Regions from separate parts of the Homo sapiens genome. Here region 1 is linked to region 2. Evidence: fine-mapped expression QTL. A gene starts in region 2. The other region holds a variant in brackets. All regions are shown on one strand. Distances are from middle to middle.

Evidence for each region. PIP is the estimated chance that this variant, and not a neighbour inherited with it, causes the effect.
Region 1: its variant is fine-mapped to the expression of IATPR in whole blood (INTERVAL, PIP 0.93).

Annotation. Positions count from the first base shown.
Region 1 is chr10:33,071,049-33,076,429 of GRCh38, reverse strand. The region is part of intron 2 of ITGB1-DT (ITGB1 divergent transcript); the gene reads right to left. It overlaps IATPR (ITGB1 adjacent tumor promoting lncRNA), which reads left to right. Exons shown (of 3, transcript NR_160030.1): 2 at 1,447-1,568; 3 at 2,184-2,404. Among named protein-coding and RNA genes, the nearest start is that of IATPR, 43 kb to the left of the region's middle. RefSeq lists an enhancer at 1-501. The variant G/C (reference allele first, on the strand shown) is at 2,718.
Region 2 is chr10:33,114,280-33,119,660 of GRCh38, reverse strand. It overlaps IATPR (ITGB1 adjacent tumor promoting lncRNA), which reads left to right and starts at 2,854. Exons shown (of 3, transcript NR_160030.1): 1 at 2,854-3,190.

The sequences.
Region 1 (5,381 bases), 43 kb after region 2:
CCAGGAAAGGCCGGGAGCAGTGGCTGAAGCCTGTAATCCCAGCACTTTGAGAGGCCTAGGTGAGCGGAACACTTGAGGTCAGGAGTTCAAGACCAGCCTGGTCAACATGGCGAATCCCCGTCTCTACTAAAAATACAATAATTAGCCGGGCATGGTGGCAGGTGTCTGTAGTCCCAGCTACTTGGGAGGCTAAGGCAGGAGAATTGCTTGAACCCGGGAGGTGGAGGTTGCAGTGAACCGAGATTGCCCCACTGCACTACAGCCTGGGCGACAAAGTGAGACTCCATCTAAAAAAAAAAAACAGCCGAGAGAGCTCCAACAACAGCAGCTAAATAAAAGCATTTGTCCCTTTTCTCTAATCACTTTGTTTCATGTCAACTACACAGCGGCTATAAGCAGAAGGTGAAAGAAATAAAAAAGCCAACCACTCCTCTCTCCTCTAGACAAGACTCTCCGTGCCTGGCAGCTCTTGGAGAAGGACATGAGCACTAATCTGACCAGAAATTTAAGTTTTGATCTGGACCCGACTGCATTTTATTTTATTTTTTTGAGACAGGCTCCCTCTGTCACCCAGGCTGGAGTGCAGTGGTGCAATCATAGCTCACTGCAGCCTCAAACTCCTGGGCTCAAGCAATCCTCCTACCTCAGCCTCTTGAGTGGCTGGGACTACAGGCATGAGCCACCGCGCCTGGTCCCCAACCGCATTATAACCGAGAAGCTGTGGGACCTATCATTAAGAGAAATGAAATGCAGATTCAACAGAACATATTGTAAGGTTGCATTTGGAGGAAAAATAAATACTTCTTGTGTGTTTCTCACTAAATTCATACCGTTTAATAAACCAATTACATTTACAAACATGCTGAACTCTCAACAGAGTGGTCTGAACTCTTGGGAGTAGACATAGTTCCAACTACCACAGAGAGTGGAAAAAAATTCAGAGTGGCCTTTCAACCAGAGCCCAGACACTGGAGTCTCAAAAATGTGTGCAAATGTACCGGGCACAGTGGCTCATGCCTATAATCCCAGCATTTTGGGAGGCCGAGGTAGGCGGATCACTTGAGGTCAGGAGTTCAAGACCAGCCTGGCCAACATGGTGAAACCCTGTCTCTACTAAAAATACAAAAATTAGTTGGGCGTGGTGGCTCGAGCCTATAATCCCAGCTACTAGGGAGGCTCAGACAGGAGAATCACTTGAACCTGAGAGGTGGAGGTTGCAGTGAGCCGAGATCCTGCCACTGCACTCCAGCCTGGGCAACAGAGCAAGACTCCATCTCAAAAAAAAAAATTGTGCAAAAGTGTGTGTGCACATCCATGAGTGTGTGTGAGACAGGGTGTGTTTGCATGTGAGCATGTGTGTGCAGAGTGAATATCAGGGTATCCACATGAGTGTGTGTGTGTATGAGGAACACATGAGATTGAACGTGTGTAATTGTATATCTCCAGTGACAGCACAGAGGAAGAGATGGTCCAAGACCAAAGAGGAAAGAAATGGCATAAGATGGGACAGTGTTCTATGATCTCTAACTGGCCAAAGAAAAATGAGAAACAAATTTAAAAGAAGACAGGTAAGTAAAGTAAGTTTAGCTGTAATTTGGATTCTCATTTAGGAACCAGGGTCTTAATCTAGAGGGAGAAGGAACTCAACATAATGTACTGTAATGGGGGTTTCCAGACTTGCTAACTTTATTCTCTCCCAAGCCATTTGTCTCTCTGTTAGTTTAATAATTTTCCACAGCTGCTGTGTAATATAACTACTGATGTACTACTGAGCCAATTTCTCCCAGCCAGTCCTACTGCCAGAGAAACTAATGGGAAGAGATAGCGCCAGGGTCTACCCTGCAAACCTGCAAGGGCTTGCAAATTGGGTCACAGTTTGCTCGTTGCTGAAGGGAACAGCACACACAGGCTGCCATCTCCATTTAATTTTTTTCTTTGTCTTGCAAACAGCAATATCTTTCTTTTGGAATTCTGAAGAAATCGATTGCTTTCATATTTCCCTGGCTCTTTAAGGAACAAAAAGCAAGTCCTGAAAAGTAAAGACATTCCTTTTAGGTCCAACTCACAGAAATTGTGGTGCAACAGCAGTGTTCGATTCCAGAAAGAGCAGGGATTCTATTTCTGTCAGTCTTATGTCTCCCTGAAACCATTTTACGATTATTTTGTGTCCTCTGTTTTCCCAGTTGGATGACTTAAACACCACCCCTGAGAGGCAGCTGTTTCCAGAATATTGCACAATTTATTGAGTTCATGAGAATCGTGATCGTTGGCAGCACCGAACTTCACGGAGGGAATCATAGGCACTTTAATTCCAATTTGTTGACTTATGGAGGAAGAAATTTCTCCCAGTGGTGTCCCTTCATCCAGGAACAAGAGCCATCAAAGTGTCACAGACTTAGAGCCGGAAGGGCTCTCCGCTAGTGTTTCTGCCAGTCCTCTTGGTTTTACACATGAGGAAACTGAGGCCCAGAGAAGTTACCCAGTAGCAGATCTGCAAGTCACCCAGTAGCAGATCTGCAAGGAGCTCTTAGCAATCCTGACTCCAAGTGTAATGCTCTTGCATTAGCTCTGTGCTGCCTCCTAGATGTTGGTCTTCTTAATGTTGATAGCACATTTGCTCAAATGTTTGCTAATATGGTTTGGCTGTGTCCTCACCCAAATCTCATCTTGAATTGTAGTTCCCATAATCCCCACTTGTCGTGGCAGGGACCCAGTGG[G/C]AGGTAATTTAATCATGGGTGTGGTTACCCTCATGCTGTTCTCATGATAGGGAGTGAAGTCTCACGAGATCTGATGGTTTTATAAACAAGAGTTCTCCTGCACAAGCTCTGTTGCCTGCTGCCATGTAAGAAGTCCCTTTGCTCTTCCTTCATCTTCCGCCATGATTGTGAGGCCTCCCCAGCCATAAGGAACCATGAGTTCATTAAACCTCTTTTTTTATAAATTACACAGTCTCCAGTATGTCTTTATTAGTAGCGTGAGAACAGACTAATACATTTGCCCTGCAAAACTTCCTTATTCTTAAGCAAAGTGATTTCCAAATTTTCTTCATTAGACACATAATTTAGAACTACGATTAACTAAACACTAACTGGGTGTCAATTACTGTACTATTTCCTGCACATGGACACATTTAGGGTCAAAGTACTGTACCAAGTATAATTTTCCTAGAAGCTATAAAATGTAGGGTATCAGTGAATGGAAAAAATAGAACATTAATTAATAAAAGAAATCTACTACAGAGAATCTTTTCCCCCTAAATATAACCATAGAGACTAGGCTGGTCATTATTTGCAGTTCACAAAAGAAAGAGGCTACAGAAATATTCACAGCTATTGAACGAGGTGGCTGGCAAGTGAATTTGGTGTAGGTGCATAAATTTGTGTGCTGGGGGTGTGTTATAAAAGAATAAAGTCTGGGTTCAGCTGGGTGATGGCAGGAAAAACAGGATCCCAGAAGGAGGCTGAAAGAGTTGGGAACAGATGGAATGACTGGCCTACATGTCAAGTCTCTTCAGCTGCCCACCTGGCCACAGAAAAGGCAAAGCTCTGCAAATGGATCATCTCGTTCTTACTGTAACACATAACAAGCAGTGGGCAACACAAACTCACCTGTGTCAATGGAAAGAGTTAAACTCTGTGACATATTTCAGAAGCTTTATTCTGAGTCAGATATGAGTGACCAAGGCCCGTGACACAGCCCCAAGAGGTCCTGAGAACATGTGCCCAAGGTGGTTGGGTTACAGCTTAATTTTATATCTTTTAGAGAGACAGAAGTTGTAGGCAGACATCAATTAATACATGTAAGGTGTACATTGGTTGGGTCTGGAAGCAGTTGTGGGGGACAGGCTGGGAGAGTGGGTATGGCTTCCAGGTCATAGTGGATTCAAAAATGTTCTGATTGCCAATCAGTTGAAAGCGTTAAGTTATTATCCAAAGACCTGGAATCAACAGAAAGGAAAGTCTTCTAGGTTAAGATAAGGGGTTGTGAAGACCAGGGATTTCATTATGCAAATGAAGCCTCTAGGCTGTAGAGAGAATAGAGAACAAATGTCTTTTATCAGACCTAAAAACTTGCCGAACCCTTAGTTAAATATCTCCCAGATGAGGTAAAGACCTAGAAAGGGAAGAGGATTCTCTACAGAATGTAGATTTCCTCACAAAAGACAGTTTTTCAGGGCCATTTAAAAAGATGTCAAAGAAATCTATTTTGGAGTAAAATACTTCAGTGTCTTTCAGGGCCTGCCATCTGTCCTATGATGCTATACTAGAGTCAGGTTGGAATTTGGTGTCTTCCCACTACAAAGAGTCTGCTTTGTCAGTCCTAAGATCTCTGTTTTAATGTTAACCCTGGTCAGTTGAGCCTGAATTCCAAAGGGAGGAGGGCATAAGGAGGTCTATCCAACAAGCCCCTCTTCCCATCACAGCTTGAACTAGTTTTTCAGGTTTACTTTGGAATGCCTCGGCCAAGAGGGAGATCCATTTAGTCATTCTGGAGGCTTAGAATTTTATTTTTGGTTTACACCTGTTATTTACCTTTTTTCTGCTACACTGGCAAAATAACCCCGTCTGCCCCTGAAAAAGGCTTCCTGGTAATCTCTCTCAGGAATCAGGGTGATTTCTCTAGTTGTTGGCGAGTTTGACAGATTGCAGGGGAAATGCTGCTTCATAATCCTGCTCCAGATGTGTTCTGACCCTAGAAGTGAACACCGAGAGCGTTCCGGTCCAACCCTACAGGAGACCAGGGAAGGAGCACCACCCAGAGAGAGAGTTCCGTACCTAAGTGCACCTTCATTTGGTATTTAAAAAAAAAAAAAAAAAAAAAAAAACAGCAAAGATGAAGGAATGTTGACAGGGCCACATGACATCAAACTAATCAGCAAGATCCCCCTCCAAGAAGTGTCTGAGTTCAAGGAATGAAAGTATTCTAATCAAACACAGAGCTTGAGAGGAGTATAAAAGACTTGGCAGAGAATCACTGAAGTAGGAAATTAATAAGGTTCAAACCTAGTGTTAAACAAGCCTTCTGAATTCCAAAATCCAACAAAGCATCTTTGGTTGTGTTCTGAAGTTAAAGAAACTATAGTCAAGGGTAACAAGAGGTAAGGGTCCCAGCTACAGGGGGCGGGGTGGGCCTTGGTTTGCTCAGTCCCCATTAAGCCAATGTTGGGGCAGGCAAAGACGGGATGAGATGAGAGAGGCTCCACCGTGCAAGCGTGAGGGCAGATCCTGCCTTTCTTTATGACGTTAATATTTTGTTCATCATGGATTTTTTCCCATTGACTTTTACATTTAAAAACATTTCACAGCTGGGTGCAGTGGCTCATGACTGTCATTCCAACACTTTGTGAAGCCAAGGTGGGTGAACTGATTGAGGCCTGGGCA
Region 2 (5,381 bases):
TAAGCTCCTTTCTCAGGATCATACTTATTAATGGCTGAGCTGAAACTAGAAAACAAACCTCCTTGAATTGCAAGTATATGGACAAGGACAAAAAGAAAATTGAAAAGAATAAAATCAGCTGATGTGTCTGAATAGCAGATTATTTTCTCTCCAATGTTCCTTGATTGTAATTTTGCCTTTTCAGTAAACAAAATCAGAACTTTTTTTTTAAAGCTGAGTCTTTATAAAGTGTTTGGGCAGGGTTGGAATATTTTGAAGTATGTAATTTTAAAATAAATAACTCAGATTGTAGGCACAACAGAAAACTACACAGTGAATGTTCTTCTCGCTACTTTCATTGACTTTGATTTTTCTGGTTCTAGAAAAATGGTAGAAAATTGGTTGTAGTCAGAATTAGAAATAAAAATATATTTAGTACCATTGTGTTTGAGGTAAAATATTTGCATGCATGTATACTTAAATGCCAAATACAAGTGCGTCACATTGCATGAATAATGGAAGTGTTAGACCCTAAAGATGCCCCAAGATTTTTTGAATACCACAGAATATCTCCATGGACCAGCCACTAGAATGAAAGTTCCATCTTTGTCCAGTTCTATGGTAGCAACAGAACATAGCAAGTTAAGGCATAATGGCCTCTGCTCTCTATAATAGGTATGGGCTCACGTTTATTTTCTATGTCAGGCCTTCTAGTGGGTATAATAAAGGTAGACACAATCTTTATTTCTATATGCTGACTAGACGCAAGGGAGAAGTAGTGACCCAGAAAAGACGAGTGGTGGGGGTGGAGTAGATGGTGAATAAGGTTTACAGTGATTCCTACTTAGTAAAGTTCAGTCACATTCTCAGGAGTGCATCTGTCTACAGCTGAGCTGAAACTAGAAGGCGAACAGTGAATAGAACAAGGATCAGAGGCTGTGCCACTGACACAGCAAACACTCCCATTTGTCCCTACAGTGTTCCACAAAAAACAAACCTGAAAAACTGTATCCAAGTCTCTGGTGGGGGCCAGGGGTCCAAAAATCTGCATATTTAACCAGTATCCCAGGCAATTGGGGGCACACTAAAATATCTGTGTTCCTGCATGTCACCTGCTCAACAACTCAGAAGGTTACAAAAAGTAATCCAAGACTCAGGGAGGTTCTGTCAAACAGTGCCTGGGAGAACCAAACTTGAGCCCTTCTGATGCCAGAAATAGACTGTGTTCTTCACTGCACATTGCCACAACCTGGTGGCAAGTCTTTACAATTCTCTGAGCCTTGGCCTCCTCTTGTGTAAAGTGAGAGGTTAGGATTTCTTTTGTGTTTGGCATTTGATGATGACCCGAGGTGAAAGAGTTGTCTGCATCCAAGACAGCTGGATACCAAGGTGCCATTTTGGATCAGAGAAACTTGCACAAACTCTGGGCCAAATGGTTTTACAGTGGTCTCTGACTCTCTCAGACTAATTTAAGATGTATCCCAGAACGATTAGCCTATGGCCCATTTATATCAAGATCCAGCTGAGTTCTAATTGGCACGAGCAACCGCTGGCATGGTACACACAAGTGCTTGCAAAGGTGATTGCCAACAGCCACCCAGCTGCAGCGGAGAGGATGTGGGCACAAACCCTTCAGATTAGGGTGTGTCACTTGAGACCAGGCCAGAGCCATCAAAGCACCCTGTTTTCCTCCACCCTTTCCGACTGCCCCAAGACTGGCACAGGGTTTAGTAATAGCGAAAGTAACACTTGCCCATGTAGGGACCAACAGTCTTTTCTAGGTTGAGTTTTCTAACTTGAGTGAGGTGCCAGACAGAAAGATGCCACCAGAGAGATTTGGCTCCCCAATGTGCCATGCAGTAAAGCCTGGCCCTTATGGCCTGCCGGACAGCATTACAACAAGTGACAAGCGCACATTTACTGTCATGGCCTGACTGAAAATCCTTGTCGTCTTAATTTGTCATTCCGAAATATATGAAAACACCTACTTAGGCCACAAAGCCTTCTTTTTTGCCTAATGGTGTTCTAGAAATAAACTGGCAGTGAAGGATACTGCATTGTTACGGGGATGTTGTCAGTTGGTTTCGTTTATCCATTTATCAATGCCATTTTGCAAGAAATAGTCTCTGCTTTAGAGATGACACTTCATACATAACAGGGAGGGCGTGAGTTTTCCTTAACTGCCAGAACATTACATAATATAACATGTCACCAGGCCTCAAATGCAGCAGCAAAGACTCTGTATATAGGCGACTCCAGAGCCAACATGTGCTTAGCCAAAAAAAATGATTCAATGCCTTCAGAATGTGGGATGCAAAATGAGATTCTGTAGGAGTCAGGGGTCAATGGTGGGAGAGTGCAAGAAACAGATCTGACAGCTCCCAAGTTCGGGGCAATCTGTTCTCAGTTAACTAATAGTTGAGAGGGATCGCTGAAGGATACAACATTGATACCCCAAAGCGCTCCAATCAGTTTCACTATTTGGCCTGATTTTATGTGTCTGTTTTCCATTCCTCCCTAACTCCTTCTTGGGCTGCAGAATGGGCCTCATTTGCAGGTTTGGTTACCAGTTATCAACTTCCACTGTGATAAAGGACAATTAGGATACAACATTGATACCCCAAAGCACTCCAATCAGTTTCACTATTTGGCCTGATTTTATGTGTCTGTTTCCTATCCCTCCCTAACTCCTTCTTGGGCTGCAGAATGGGCCTCACTTGCAGGTTTGGTTATCAGTTATCAACTTCCACTGGGATAAACGACAATTAGGAGGTGGTGGGGACAGGAGTCCTGCCTGTGAAGTCCCAGTTAATCACCAAGCCATACAACCTCCCCTAAAGAGTCAAGAGCGGATGCAGGCTGTTGATGTTTTTCATTCAAAGCTCGCAATGCACCGTTCTGAAAACTCTCCAGCGTAGAATTCAGGAACCCTGAGTTTTCTATCTCTGTCTAGTTCTGGACTGAATGGGCTCAAGTCATCTAGTTAACCTCTCTGGATTTCAGTCTTCTGAAAAGTGAAGCTAAGAGATCTAGCATTCTGCAGAAAAGTACTGGAGATGACTCAGGACTGAAAATGATCATGAAGCCCCTTTGCAAATATCAAAGTGGTGATGAAGCAGTCATGAACTTTGACCAGAAGCCGTGTTTTGTGGGATTGCCACTTTAATCGCTCCTGTTCATCATTAGGACTGCAGCCAGAGTGTGGAAGGAGGTGAGTGCTTTGGTGGTCTTGCTAGGTTGCGGAGCGTGGGCTTTTGTGGATATGCAACAGTGCCCTCTATTGGCATCCGGCATATTTTAAGCCACTGGAGCTGATAAGTCCATTTTCCTCTGCCCTGTGTCTTTGTACTTCTTAGTGGAGGCCCAGAGAGCTTGTGTGTAAGGGGCTGTGACCAGACTGCTCAGCAAGGGCTTTTGCTTCGCAGAGTGCTGCGCGTACATTAGAAAGCTGCTGAGTGGAAATCTTATTCCCTGGGATTTTAAACAGCCACATTTCCTGGCGTTTGACATCAATGGGACATTTAGCAAATGGAGTGCCAGATGGAGCTCCTGGCTCTATTTTCTGTAAGACACTTGAGAGTCAGAACCCTCCCAATGTTTGCGCTTGATAGGCTTGCCCACCGTAGGGCTGGCCACGGCTCAGTGGATGCGGGGCATTCTGCGGGCTTGCAACGCGGGGAGAGCGGGGACACACAGGATAGCACGTGGCAGCTCGGCCTGCATTGCTACACACAAAAGCATTTCAAGTTCCAGCATCCTTGGTAATTCACTTTAACACTCAGTCACTCACTTCTCTTATGTTATCTGACTTCCTTACAAGCCACATGCAAGAAAACAAATAGTAATTGACTCACACTTTCACAAGCACTGTCTCTCCTGAACTTCTCAAGGCAGTAAGCAAGGCAAACCTCGGTGCCACTGTTTTGGAGATCAAGAAATGGAAGCTTAGATTGTTGAGGGACTTGCCCACAGTTCCATGGTATCACCTTATAACTTATAGAAAAAGCAATGAAATCTCAGATTTTTTCTAATATCTAAGCAGTGCTGTCTTCCCCACCCCCCACCCCCTTTTGTTTTTTGAGACGGAGTCTCACTCTGTCTCCCAGGATGGAGTATAATGGCATGGTCTCGGCTTGCTGCAACCTCCACCTCCCAGGTTCAAGGGGTTCTCCCACCTCAGCCTCCCTAGTAGCTGGGACTACAGACACAGGCCACCACACCCAGCTAATTTTTGTATTTTTAGTAGAGACATGGTTTCACTATGTTGGCCAGGCTGGTCTCAAACTCCTGACCTCGTGATCCACCCGCCTCAGCTTCCCAAAGTGCTGGGGTTACAGGCGTGAGCCACCACTCCCGGCCTCTCTTCCCCCTTTCTATGTGAACACATGTACTTTTATTAAATCATTTTGATTATTTTCTATTAATAATTCACATTTATATGAATCACAGAATTCAAGATTACTATATAGTCCCTAGAAATTGCTTTATTACTCACTATATTTATGAAGGCTCCTAGTAAATCTCCATGATGATATTTGGAGAGTCTCTGATATATTCAAAGTTGTCCTGTTTTTATACTGAAGGCAGCCGACACTGATCCAGTCAATGAAATCGTGATTCTCTAAGAATGAATATTTGGATTTTTTTTTTCTTTTCATAAGGTTGCGTGTCTTTGGTGTTCAGGCAGGTAGATGCCACATTGCTTTATTAAATTGGTGTAATGGAGCATGGATTTTTTTATATTGTCATATGCAGTGATAATCTAAAATTCTAGAGCTATGATTCATCTCTGAGGATGTTTTACTCATATTGCACAATAACCAAAAAGTATTTAGACCTCAAACAGCGGGTTAACTGGGCATGGCCCTGTCCTTGTACAGTTTGCATGCTGTTATTTTTACAGATGTTCTCCTCAGTTCCCACCTTAATTCAGGTCAGGGGAGTTAATGGGAAATGAAACTGCATCTCCTCTACTTCCCTCCTTCCTGCACGGTTGACTTGAATTATAAACCAACAGCTATGCTCTGCCGGTTGATAACTGAGTTGTTTACCACCTCAACCAGAAGATGCAACGATTAGCTGTTTTTTTCTGGCTTTAGAAAAAGGTTACCTCGTAAATAGATGAGGAGACAATCTGCATATCTGCCCCATCTTACCTTTGACTTAGATACCTACTTCCCTACTGAAACAATAAACCAGTCTCTGGCTGTTGCTGCAGAAGAATCTGCTACAGAAATATCTGTCACACTTTAAAATTGTTTCCCACACACCAAACAAGCTCAACCGCTCTTCTCTTGTTCCAAAACAAAAGCCTTATCCTGTAGGACTCTTTCAACAAAAACCAATGAAGAACACCTTTACTTTTTCAAGTAAAACTAAAAATAATGATCACAAAACAAAAA